Regions from separate parts of the Homo sapiens genome. Here region 2 is linked to region 1. The links come from fine-mapping of genetic effects on gene expression. A gene starts in region 1. The other region holds a variant in brackets. All regions are shown on one strand. Distances are between the middles of the regions.

What was found. PIP is the estimated chance that this variant, and not a neighbour inherited with it, causes the effect.
Region 2: its variant is the best candidate, but not a certain one, in a credible set for the expression of CRAT in esophagus muscle (GTEx, PIP 0.50).

Annotation. Positions count from the first base shown.
Region 1 is chr9:129,108,660-129,113,659 of GRCh38, reverse strand. CRAT (carnitine O-acetyltransferase) reads left to right here and starts at 2,867. Exons shown (of 14, transcript NM_000755.5): 1 at 2,867-3,177. The coding sequence starts at 3,151. It overlaps PTPA (protein phosphatase 2 phosphatase activator), which reads right to left and starts at 2,245. Exons shown (of 10, transcript NM_178000.3): 1 at 2,029-2,245. The coding sequence starts at 2,059. RefSeq lists silencers at 1,932-1,981, 2,672-3,111 and enhancers at 1,509-2,049, 1,982-2,261.
Region 2 is chr9:129,152,985-129,158,497 of GRCh38, reverse strand. No RefSeq gene overlaps it. Among named protein-coding and RNA genes, the nearest start is that of IER5L, 23 kb to the left of the region's middle. The variant G/C (reference allele first, on the strand shown) is at 3,063.

The sequences.
Region 1 (5,000 bases):
TAGCTGCGATTACAGACGTGTGCCACCACACCCAGCTAATTTTTGTATTTTGAATACAGACGGGGTTTTGCCATGTTGGCCATGGCTGGTCTCGAACTCCTGACCTCAAGTGATCCGCCTGTGTCGGCCTCCCAAAGTGCTGGGATTACAGGTGTGAGCCACTGTGCCCGGAGTCATCACCAGAACTTCTAAGGCTAGCTTGTTCAACCCACAGCCCAGGACAGCTTTGAATGTAGCCGGACACAAATTTGTAAACTTTCTTAAAACATAGGCCAGGCACGGTGGCTCATGCCTGTAATCCCAGCACTTTGGAAGGCCGAGGCAGGAGGATCACGAGGTCAGGAGTTCGAGACCAGCCTGGCCAATATGGTGAAACCCTGTCCCTATTAAAAATACAAAAATTAGCCAGGCATGGTGGCGCACCTGTAGTCCCAGCTACTCAGGAGGCTGAGGCAGGAGAATCGCTTGAACCCGGGAGGCAGAGGGTGCAGTCAGCCGAGACCATGCCACTGCACTTCAGCCTGGGGGACAGAGTGAGACACTGTCTCAAAAAAAAGAAACACAAAACCATTATGAGATTTTTTTTTTTGCGACTTTTTTTTTAGCTCATCAGCCATCGTTAGTGTTAGTGTATTTTATGTGTGACCCAAGACAATTCTGCTTCCAATGTGGCTTAGAGAAGCCAAAAGAGTGGACACCCCGGTTTTTTTTTTGGGGGGTGACGGAGTTTCACTCTTGTTGTCCAGGCTGGAGTGCAATGCCGCGATCTCAGCTCACCGCAACCTCTGCTTCCCAGGTTCAAGCGATTCTCCTGCCTCATCCTCCCTAGTAGTTGGGATTACGGGCGTGTGTCACCACGCCCGGCTAATTTTGTATTTTTAGAAGAGACGGAGTTTCTCCATGTTGGTCAGGCTGGTCTCGAACTCCCGACCTCAGGTGATCAGCCCGCCTCGGCCTCCCAAAGTGCTGGGATTACGGGCATGAGCCACCGCGCCTGGCCTGGACATCCTTGTTCTAAGGGCACACACCCAGAGGTTTTGTACAAAATAAATGTCTGGTTTTGAATGTCCTAAGAAACGGAACCCAGCTCTTTGTTCACCTCTTTTGTGGGGCATGGAGGGGATGCCTTTTCTGATTTTCAACATTTCTCCCTCCTGAGACCTTCCCAGGGACCCCAACATTGGAGACAGGATAGCAAGAATATCAAATGCTTTCAAAACATTAGCTGTGTTTGGTCGGCCAACCTATTTGCCTCTGTCGGGAATGTAAAAGTTATCTATGGCCAGTCCTTCTTAGTTCAAGGTAGGTCGGCAAACAGCCTTCTCCTTCTGCACAAAAAGGGTCTCTAAGATCCTTCCGTAGCACCTCCATCCCAGTTATTTAAGATGAACTAAAAAGAGGCTACAAGGTAAATAAGAGTTACCGAAGGAGATGCCGGAGAGACTAACCTCCTTGCACAACCAGCCTTTTAAAATTAGGGATTTAGACACCACGGGCAGTTTCCCTCAATAAATTCTCAGGCACTGGAACCAGAGAGTAGGAGGATGAGGGGTGAGCAGGACGCGGAGGCCGAAACTGGAGGCGAGGCGGGCGCAGGCCCACGGAGCACCACCCCATCCCCTAAGCAGCGACTAATAAAGACGGCAGCCTCCGGAATCACTTTCGCCCCCCTCCCTGGCAGCTTCCCCACCGAGTCAGCAGCTTACTTAAGCACGCGCTGCCCAGAGATGCAAAAGGCCCCCTTATGACCACGGCGCTGCCCACCCAGCATTCGGGCAGCCTGGACTCCCACAAAACCCAGAGTTGCGCCCCAATCACCACCCCTTTGCAGCCCCTGGTTCCCTCCCCAGCGGCGCCCCACCACCCACCTCTCCCCTAAGGCCATTCAACTCAGTCCCTCCTCGGGGCCCCTCAGCTTTTGCCCCTCCAGTTCCTCCGTGTCATGACTCTCGCCCTCCTGAGCCTCCCACACCTGGCACCGCCCCCACCCTACCCGACCCCGGCCCGGCCTGGCCCCGCCGGCCTTACCTGGCGGCGGCTGCCGCTCGCCCTCAGCCATCTTGCTCCGGCCAGGAGCCGACCCGGATGCTTGCAGTCCCCTCTCGCCTTTCACTCTTGCACCCACCCTTCCTCTCCCCGGCTCCACCAAAGGCTCCGAGCTTCCTGAAGACAAGTGAGCGCCGGCCGGCTATAACCGAAAACCGAGAGTTAAAGTCACCACAGCGAAGACGGCCGCCATGTCGGTGCGGGGCGCTCAGGGAGCAAGCCTATTAACGGCCGGCGCGCGGCGGACGCGCGGAACCGGGCGACGGCCATGTCAGTGCGGGGCGCGCGGGGCGCATGCGCGCCAACGGCCGCCAAGCGCTAGGACCGCTCACGGCCGCCCGAACGTCGGGCGCCGCGACTGCCACGATTGTGCGGGGCGTCAAGTTTGGGTTGTGCTCAGCCATGTTTTTCCGGGACAGTCTCCTGTCCCGGAGTACCACCTGTCATCTTTGTGGGTGGTACTGACCCTAACCCAAGGAATATTAGAGGACATTCCCCGGTCAACATGGTTGTGTTTTCCTATCACTCTAAGAGTTAGGCTCAAGGACACCAGACGGAGTTGGAAAGGTGCACACCACTACCTCCAACAGCTTAGAAGACATGTGGGGACAGGGGAGAGACAGCTGGACGGTGACCTCCTCCTTCCTCCTCCACAGGTCTCAATGACTCGCCCTCGGCCCTGCCCCTCTGTCCCCGCCCGCCGTGGTCCCGCCCCCGACTCGCAGCCAGCCTACTGCGACCCGCTACCGGGCGACGCCCCGCCCCTCCGTCCCCGCCCCTCCTGTCCCTCCTCAAGGAGACTCCGCCCCATCGATGCCCCGTCCCCGCCCCACAGCCAACCTCCCGGGCACCGTTGCCCGCCCGGGGCCCGCTACCGGCCCAGGCCCCGCCTCGCGAGTCCTCCTCCCCGGGTGCCTTCCCGCAGCCCGCTCGGCCCAGAGGGTGGGCGCGGGGCTGCCTCTACCGGCTGGCGGCTGTAACTCAGCGACCTTGGCCCGAAGGCTCTAGCAAGGACCCACCGACCCCAGCCGCGGCGGCGGCGGCGCGGACTTTGCCCGGTGTGTGGGGCGGAGCGGACTGCGTGTCCGCGGACGGGCAGCGAAGATGTTAGCCTTCGCTGCCAGGACCGTGGTGAGTGCGGCGGATCCCGGGCCTGAGGGCCCTGGACGGCCTGGGCGGGCCGTGCGGTTGCGTCCGGGAACGGAGACCGCGTCCTGCGGCCGCTGTTCGACCCGGCCTCCAGCTGATGGGGTGGGGTCAGGCGGGCGTCCCAGGTTTGGCAGAGCAGGAGATTGGGGCGCAAGGTCAGAAGCGGGATTAAACCCACGTCCTGGAGCATTCAGTTCCAACGACCCAGGAAAGACAAGGGGGACCCCGGCTTCAGTTAGCACCCCCACCCTTAGACCCAGAGACAGGCCGGTAGGGGAGAGAGACCAGGAGCATCCAGACCCTAGCTCACTCTCCCAGTTATTCTCCGATTGACACACCCGTCGCACGCTTAGGCCAGAGCCACTCCTCCGACCCTGTCCAGTTGGTCACACTCCTTTGGTTTATCAGACGGTCCCTGGGGAATTGTGTGTGGCCAGAGAAACACGCGGAGGCATCAAGCTAGAAAGGCCTCAGAACTGGCAGGTGGCAGCCCCATGGTCTCCCTCCCCTCCAGCCCCCTTCCCCACCCTGGCTGTATCCTTCCCTCCAGCCCCCTTCCCCACCCTGGCTATATCCTCCCCTCTAGCCCCCTTCCCCACCCTGGCTATATCTACCCCTCAGTCCTCCCCGGTGAGCAGCCCGGATGCTAGCCTAATTTCAGTCCCTTCCGTCCCTGATCCAAGCATATGTTGCTGGTGTCTCACTCTGTCTCAGACACACACTACGGGGCCAGAGGGCGGAGGGTGCATCCAGGCTCAGGCCTAGAGGCTCTTTTAGGTGTTGCAACACCCTGAGCCTCCACCGCACCCTTGTCACTGTCTCCCAAGCTGCATCCATCCCACAAACAGCCTCTAGATCATCCTCCAGGACCATCCGACTGGACTGGTTACCTTCCTGCAGGGAAACTGAGGCAAGGAGGGACTTGCCCAGAGTCCCCTGGACCTGCTCATTCAAATCCAGCCCAATCCCAGTGTCCTTTGGTTTATTTTTCATACCAAAAGTCCTCCGCTCTTGGACCCTAGCTGAATGAGCCACAGCTCAGGAAAAAATGAGTGTTCGTAGAGGGATGGCTCAGATGGGTCCCAGGAGTCCTGGAGAGAAACAGGAAATAGGCAGGGCTTCTGGCTGTCCCATCCACTGATGGCCTTTTCCTGGTGTCTGCTCCCTTGCACCAACCCTAATTTCAGGACCGATCCCAGGGCTGTGGTGTAACCTCAGCGGCCAGGCAGTCTCTGTCCTCCAGCCAAGTTTTCCCTCATCAAAACGATCTTCGCAGATTCTGACAGGTGGATTTTTTATTACCTTTTGTCCTGACTCCCTGGCACTGAGCCCATGCAGAGAAGAAAGGAAAGAACTTTCCAGGTTCCCTTCTACTGGAATGCCCCCCCACTAGCCCTCTCACCTGCTCCCCATTCCTCTACTTCTGGGAGCTCGGGAGGGTGGAGCAGCTTCTAGAGTCCAGGAGCTTCCCCTGCCACTGCCACAACCCCCGATTCCACCACAGCCATCGCCACTGCCACCTGCCTCCCGCTGAATCTTGGCTCTTGTCTTCTCTTTCCAGCCCAGGCAAGTGGCTGCCTCTGGCTAGGTTCTGCTCACTCACTTTGTAGCACAGTTAGGCTTAGAGATCCAGCCAAGGCAGACAGACAGGGCCCAGAACCTCAGTCCTGCCATGGAGGAGGACGGGCAGCAGAGAGAGAAGGTATGGAACAGAGCTCCTGCCACTCGCCTGCCCACTGCAAGAGCAGCCTCGGGCCCTCCTGTCTCTGCCCACTCCAGGGCCTCCTGGACTTTCTCTTTCTCTC
Region 2 (5,513 bases), 45 kb before region 1:
GGGCAGATCACAAGGTCAGGAGATCGAGACCATCCTGGCTAACACGGTGAAACCCCGTCTCTACTAAAAATACAAAAAAATTAGCCGGGTGTGGTGGCGGACGCCTGTAGTCCCAGCTACTCGGGAGGCTGAGGCAGGAGAATGGTGTGAACCCGGGAGGCGAAGCTTGCAGTGAGCCGAGATCGCGCCACTGCACTCCAGCCTGGGTGACAGAGCGAGACTCTGTCTCAAAAACAAACAAAAAAAAGACATTCTGGAGGACCAGAGAGAGGGCAACATGACTGAAGTACGGGAGTGGGCGAGTGGGGCGGGGGCACAGTGGCTCATCACCTCGTGGGGCCTTCTGTGCACAGTCAGGAGCCACCCTTCAAGTAGGGATCTGATGGGAGTGACCTTCAAGCACCTCAGGGTAGAATCACCTTTAAGCACCTCAGGGTAGAGCCCAGGGACAGTGGCAGAGTGGAGTCAGGAGAGCAGAGAGGAGATGCTGCTGGCCAGCGCTCCTGGGAGAGCTGACCGTGCTCCCTGGCTGCGGGCAGATTTGGGTTACAATTTGGAGGGAGACCCAATAGGACCTGCTCATGGGTTGGATTTGAGAGGTAGAGGAAAAGAAAGGAATTCAGGATAACACCTGCACCAGGTATGGTAGCTCATACCTGTAATAATCCCAGCACTTTGAGAGGCCGAGGCACGAGGATCACTTGTGCTCAGGAGTTTGAGACCAGCCTGGGCAACATAGGGAAACCCTGTCTCTACAGAAAAAAAGTTTCTTAAATTTAGCTGGGCATAATGGTGCACACCTGTAGTCCCAGGTGTGGACCCAGGAGAGTAAACTCTCAAGCAATAGAGGGTAAACGAGGCCAAGGCTGCAGTGAGCTATGATTGTGCCACTGCACCAGCCTGGACGACAGAGCAAGACTCTGTCTCAAAAAATAAAAATAAAAAAGATAACACCTGGGCCAGGCACGGTGACTCACTCCTATAATCTCAGGACTTTGGGATGCTGAGGCAGGTGGATCACTTGAGGCCAGGAGTTGGAGACCAGCCTGGCCAACATGGTGAAACCCGGTCTCTACTAAAAATACAAAATTAGCCAGGCGTGGTGGTGCAGGCCTATAATCCTAGCTACTAGGGAGGCTGAGCCAGGAGAATCACTTGAACCTGGGAGGCAAAGTTTGCAGTGAGCTGAAATCGAGCCACTGCACTCCAGCCTGGGTGACAGAGCAAGATCCTGTCTCAAAAAATAAAAAGGATGACGCCTGGATTTGGGGCCTGATGGCTGTCCGCAGAGACAGACTGCCTTGGGGAGAACAAGGAGCCACGTGGCCATAGCCAATCTTTCCCTTGCCCAGCTCCGGGTACCCCACCATGCTGGCCTTTGTAGGACCTGGTGTCAGACAAACCTGGGCACCACCCTGAACCCACTTGGACAAGCTGGAGGCCCTGGGACGCCACTAAGATCTGAGCCCCACCACCAAAAGCCCTTGACTGGGAATGTGATGCCACCTTCTCGGCTCACTGTGGGGACTCCACGAGGTGACACATAAAGCACAATCTGCACACACCAAGAGGCACGCTACCAGCCAGAGAGTCATTGCTGTCATGCGTCTTCGTCATCTTTGTGCAAATCGGCCCTGCCTCCAAAAAGAAACTGGGCCCTTGGAAGAGGTGCCTCTCAGAGAAGCCCAGGGTCTGGGGCCAGTCCTGGAGAGATGGGTGCAGGAGCAGGAGGAAGAGGAGGAGGAGGGGGAGGGGGTAGAGTGAAGTGGAGTGGAGGAGGGCTCTCAGGCCACCACAGTGGGGACAGGCAGCACACGGCAGCCCATGCCACCCGAGCCCTCAGGTCAGGCCCCGTGGAGAGGCTGCAGGAGCACGAGCTTTGGCGGGAAAGAGACCCCAGACCCTTCTGTGAAATGAGGACATCAGCGCCCATTGTGAGGATGAGGCAAGAGAAGCTTCGAAGCACTTAGCTCAGGGCCAGACACATAGGCCGCATGCAGGAGCCACAAGCTCCAGGCTCGCTGCGGGAACCCCCAGACATCAGGGGGCAGACAGCTGCTGGGGCCTGGAGCAGCAGTGGCAACTGAGACATGGGGACCAGGAATTTGCATGGAGTAGGGCAGGAGCCACTCCTGAAGGAATGGCCAGGCCACCACAGTCCGGGCAGAAGCCAGGCCTGGGGCCAGTAGCCAGCAAGGGAACGACCGCCCCAGCTCCAGACACCCAGCACACCTCCCAGCCTTGCTGCCGGAGCCCTCATCCTGCCTTCAAGGAAGGCTCTCCACCCTGTCCACGACATTCCCACAGCTCCCCACATGCCCCGTGTCCTCCTTAAACCTCCATGAGGGACGGAACCGCATCTGCCTCCTCCATGGTCCTTGGGGTCTCCTTGGAGCCTGGCAGAGCAAGTGCTCAGTAAACGTTCGTGGGACAGATTCACAGCCATTATTGGGCTCAGTGGGTAGAAATGTCCACACTGAGCTGGGCACAGTGGCTCATGCCTGTAATCCCAGCACTTTGGGAGGCCAAGGTGGGTGGATCACCTGAGGTTAGGAGTTCGAGACCAGCCTGGCCAACATGGTGAAACCCCGTCTCTACTAAAAATACAAAATTAGCCGGGTGTGGTGGTGCACACCAGTAATCTTGGCTACTTGGGAGGCTAAAGCAGGAGAATCGCTTGAATCCAGGAGTTGGGGGTTGCAGTGAGCAGAGATGGCACCACTGCACTCCAGCCTGGATGACACAGCAAGACTCTTGTCTCAAAGAAAAAAAAAAGAAAGAAAGAAAGAAAGAAATGTCCACGCTGGAGCCTGATGGCCCAGGTTTGAAACCCACTTACCACCAAGGAATTCCCCCATGGCTCGGTTGCCACATGCCCACCTCGCAGGGTGGCCTGCGGAGATTCAATGAGACGGTGCCAGCAAAGCCCTGGGCTGTGTCCGTTCGGTGTCTGGTACATCCACCCTGTAAGGCCATGTTTACTTACCTTGTTTATACGTAAGGAAACTGAGGCTCAGAGGGGTTCAGTCATGGCTCAAGGTCACACAGAGGGAAATGCAAGA[G/C]CCACTCCAGAGCCCACGCACACCTTGGCCACCACGCTCCCCACCCCTTGCAGAGGGCAGGAGCTGGCTCTAGAGGGTGTGCGCAGTCCGTCAGCCCAGCAAGGGCCAGGCCCAATCTCACCAAGCAGAGGTGGGGAGCAGGAGCAGGCTGTTCCGTCCGCAGCCCGCCCACCTGCCTGTCCTGCCCGGGGCTGGGTCCAGTTACCTGGAGATGAGGTGCTGCACTCGGCCTGCCTTTGCAGTGTCCCTTTTGAAAAGCCCCAACTTTGTCTCATGTAAATAACAAGGGTCAAGAAATCTGTCCAGGCTCAGACTGGGAGATCTCACTACAGGCCAGCAAAGGCCCGGCCTCGGGGCCAGAACTGGGGATACAGCCAGCTGCCCTGCCAGGAGAGGAAGCCTCCCAGAGCCCCAGCCACTGTGGAGTACGTCTCATCGCCGCAGCTCTGAGCCCCATCCTCACAGGTCCGTCTACTCCTGGGTGTTGTCCCAGGTATCCCTTGATGTCACCTGCTCAGGGGAGGATGGTGGATGAAGCTGGACCCATCAGGGGCTTCGCCTCTTCACTGGGATTCAGGAAAATACTCCCAGCAGCATCACAAGCACTGAGAGAAATTGAACCGTTCGTCCCTTGGTTCTTAACCACCAAACCCCCCATCCAGGGCCCAGGCAGGAGAAAGAGCACCTCAACTTTGGGACTGAATTCTGGATCCAACTCACATGTGCTGGGGTCCTGAGAACAGAAGCTGGGTCCCAGAGGTCACCAGGAAGGCTGCAGATGCCCGCCAGGGAACTGCTGGCCACAACTCTCCCCAGTCCAAAGGCCCCCTGAGGAATCAGGATCTAGGCTGCCTCCTCTCCCTGGGTCCAGCTCACATGGACTCTCAAACACTTTTCCCCAATACCTCTCACTCCCTGAATCCCCCAGCCCCGACTGCCCACTCCCTCTCAGGGGGTCTCTGGGCCAAAGCACCTACCAAGAACTCACCTCCCCTTCCTTTATCCCAACAGATGTGAGCAAGGCCCCTCTCCTTCCTCTCCCTCCTGACTAGAAGGACAAGCCCCCTCCTCTCTGCCCAAGATGCACCATCCTCCGGCGCTTGTTAGCGGGGAGATCTTTTTATTCAGTTTCCTTTCTTTTTTTTTCTTATTACAAAAGTAGTATGTGGATATGGTAGAAAGATTTAAAAATCAAATACGAAAAACATAAAGCAAGGTTAAAACTGACCCGCCACTACTTTTTCTTTTGTGGTTCAGTAATGTTAGGGTTTTTTTTTTTTTTTTTTTTTTTTTGAGACGGAGTCTTGCTTTGTTGCCCAGACTGGAGTGCCGTAGTGTAATCTCGGCTCACCGCAACCTCCCCCTCCCGGATTCAACCGATTCTCCTGCCTCAGCCTTCCGAGTAGCTGGGATTACAGGCGTGTGCCACCACACCCGGCTGATTTTTTGTATTTTAGTAGAGACGGGGTTTCACCATGTTGGCCAGGATGGTCTCAATCTCCTGACCTCGTGATCCGCCTGCCTCAGCCTCCCAAAGTGCTGGGATTACAGGCGAGCCACCATGCCCGGCCATGTTGGCATTTTCATAACTATCTTTGGAAGCAGGAAAAGCATTAAGAATTTTCCAAAAACCCTCATATCCCCACCACCCAGAGATAAGCTCATCACTACCTGGGCCTGTGTTCATGTAGATGGACAGACAGACGGACGGATCAAGAATGCAGATTTCTGCTTTTTTACAAAAAAGCATTGTCCTTCACCTGCAGTCTTTGCAGCTGCCTTCCCCACGAATAACAGATTATCCGCATCTTTCTGGACAAATAAATGGATAATCGCGTCATCTGACAGCCCATAGGATGACTGCTCCCTCCAGCCCCCTAACAATCCCCAACTGCTGAACATATAGAGTGTTTCCCAGGTTCTGCTGGAATAAGTCCAAGAGGGAAAATCCTCCAGGAGGGACGGTGCTGCCTGTCTTGTTCACCGCAGCGCCCCAGCACTTGTCCCCAGACTGGAACAGAGAGGGCTCTGACAGTGTTTGCTGAGTGAATGAAAGCAAGCCATCCTCCCGGCTCAACCCTGACCTGGGCCTCTCTGGTCCTCTCCTCAGCTCCCTCCCTCCGCCCTCCGCCTGCAGTGGCACTCAGGTACCCCAGGGGCCCCCCATGCCCACCTGCCTCCTTCTTCCTCCCCACTGTGCCAACCTCACCCTCCTTTCTCTCCAGCCCACTGCTCCTCTGCTTGGCTCCACAGCACTCAGAACTGCCCTCTCACAGGCCCCATACCCACCTCCGGTGCTGGCTGCCTGGCACCAGGGCAACAGTGGCCACTCAGTCTCCCTGCCCATTCCACTCACCTGCCCCAGGCGGGGCACCAGCTTCCTTTCTCCACGGATTCTCCAGGGCTGACCTGCCCCCTCCTGTGTCTGTATCATGCTCTGCACGAGGGCCC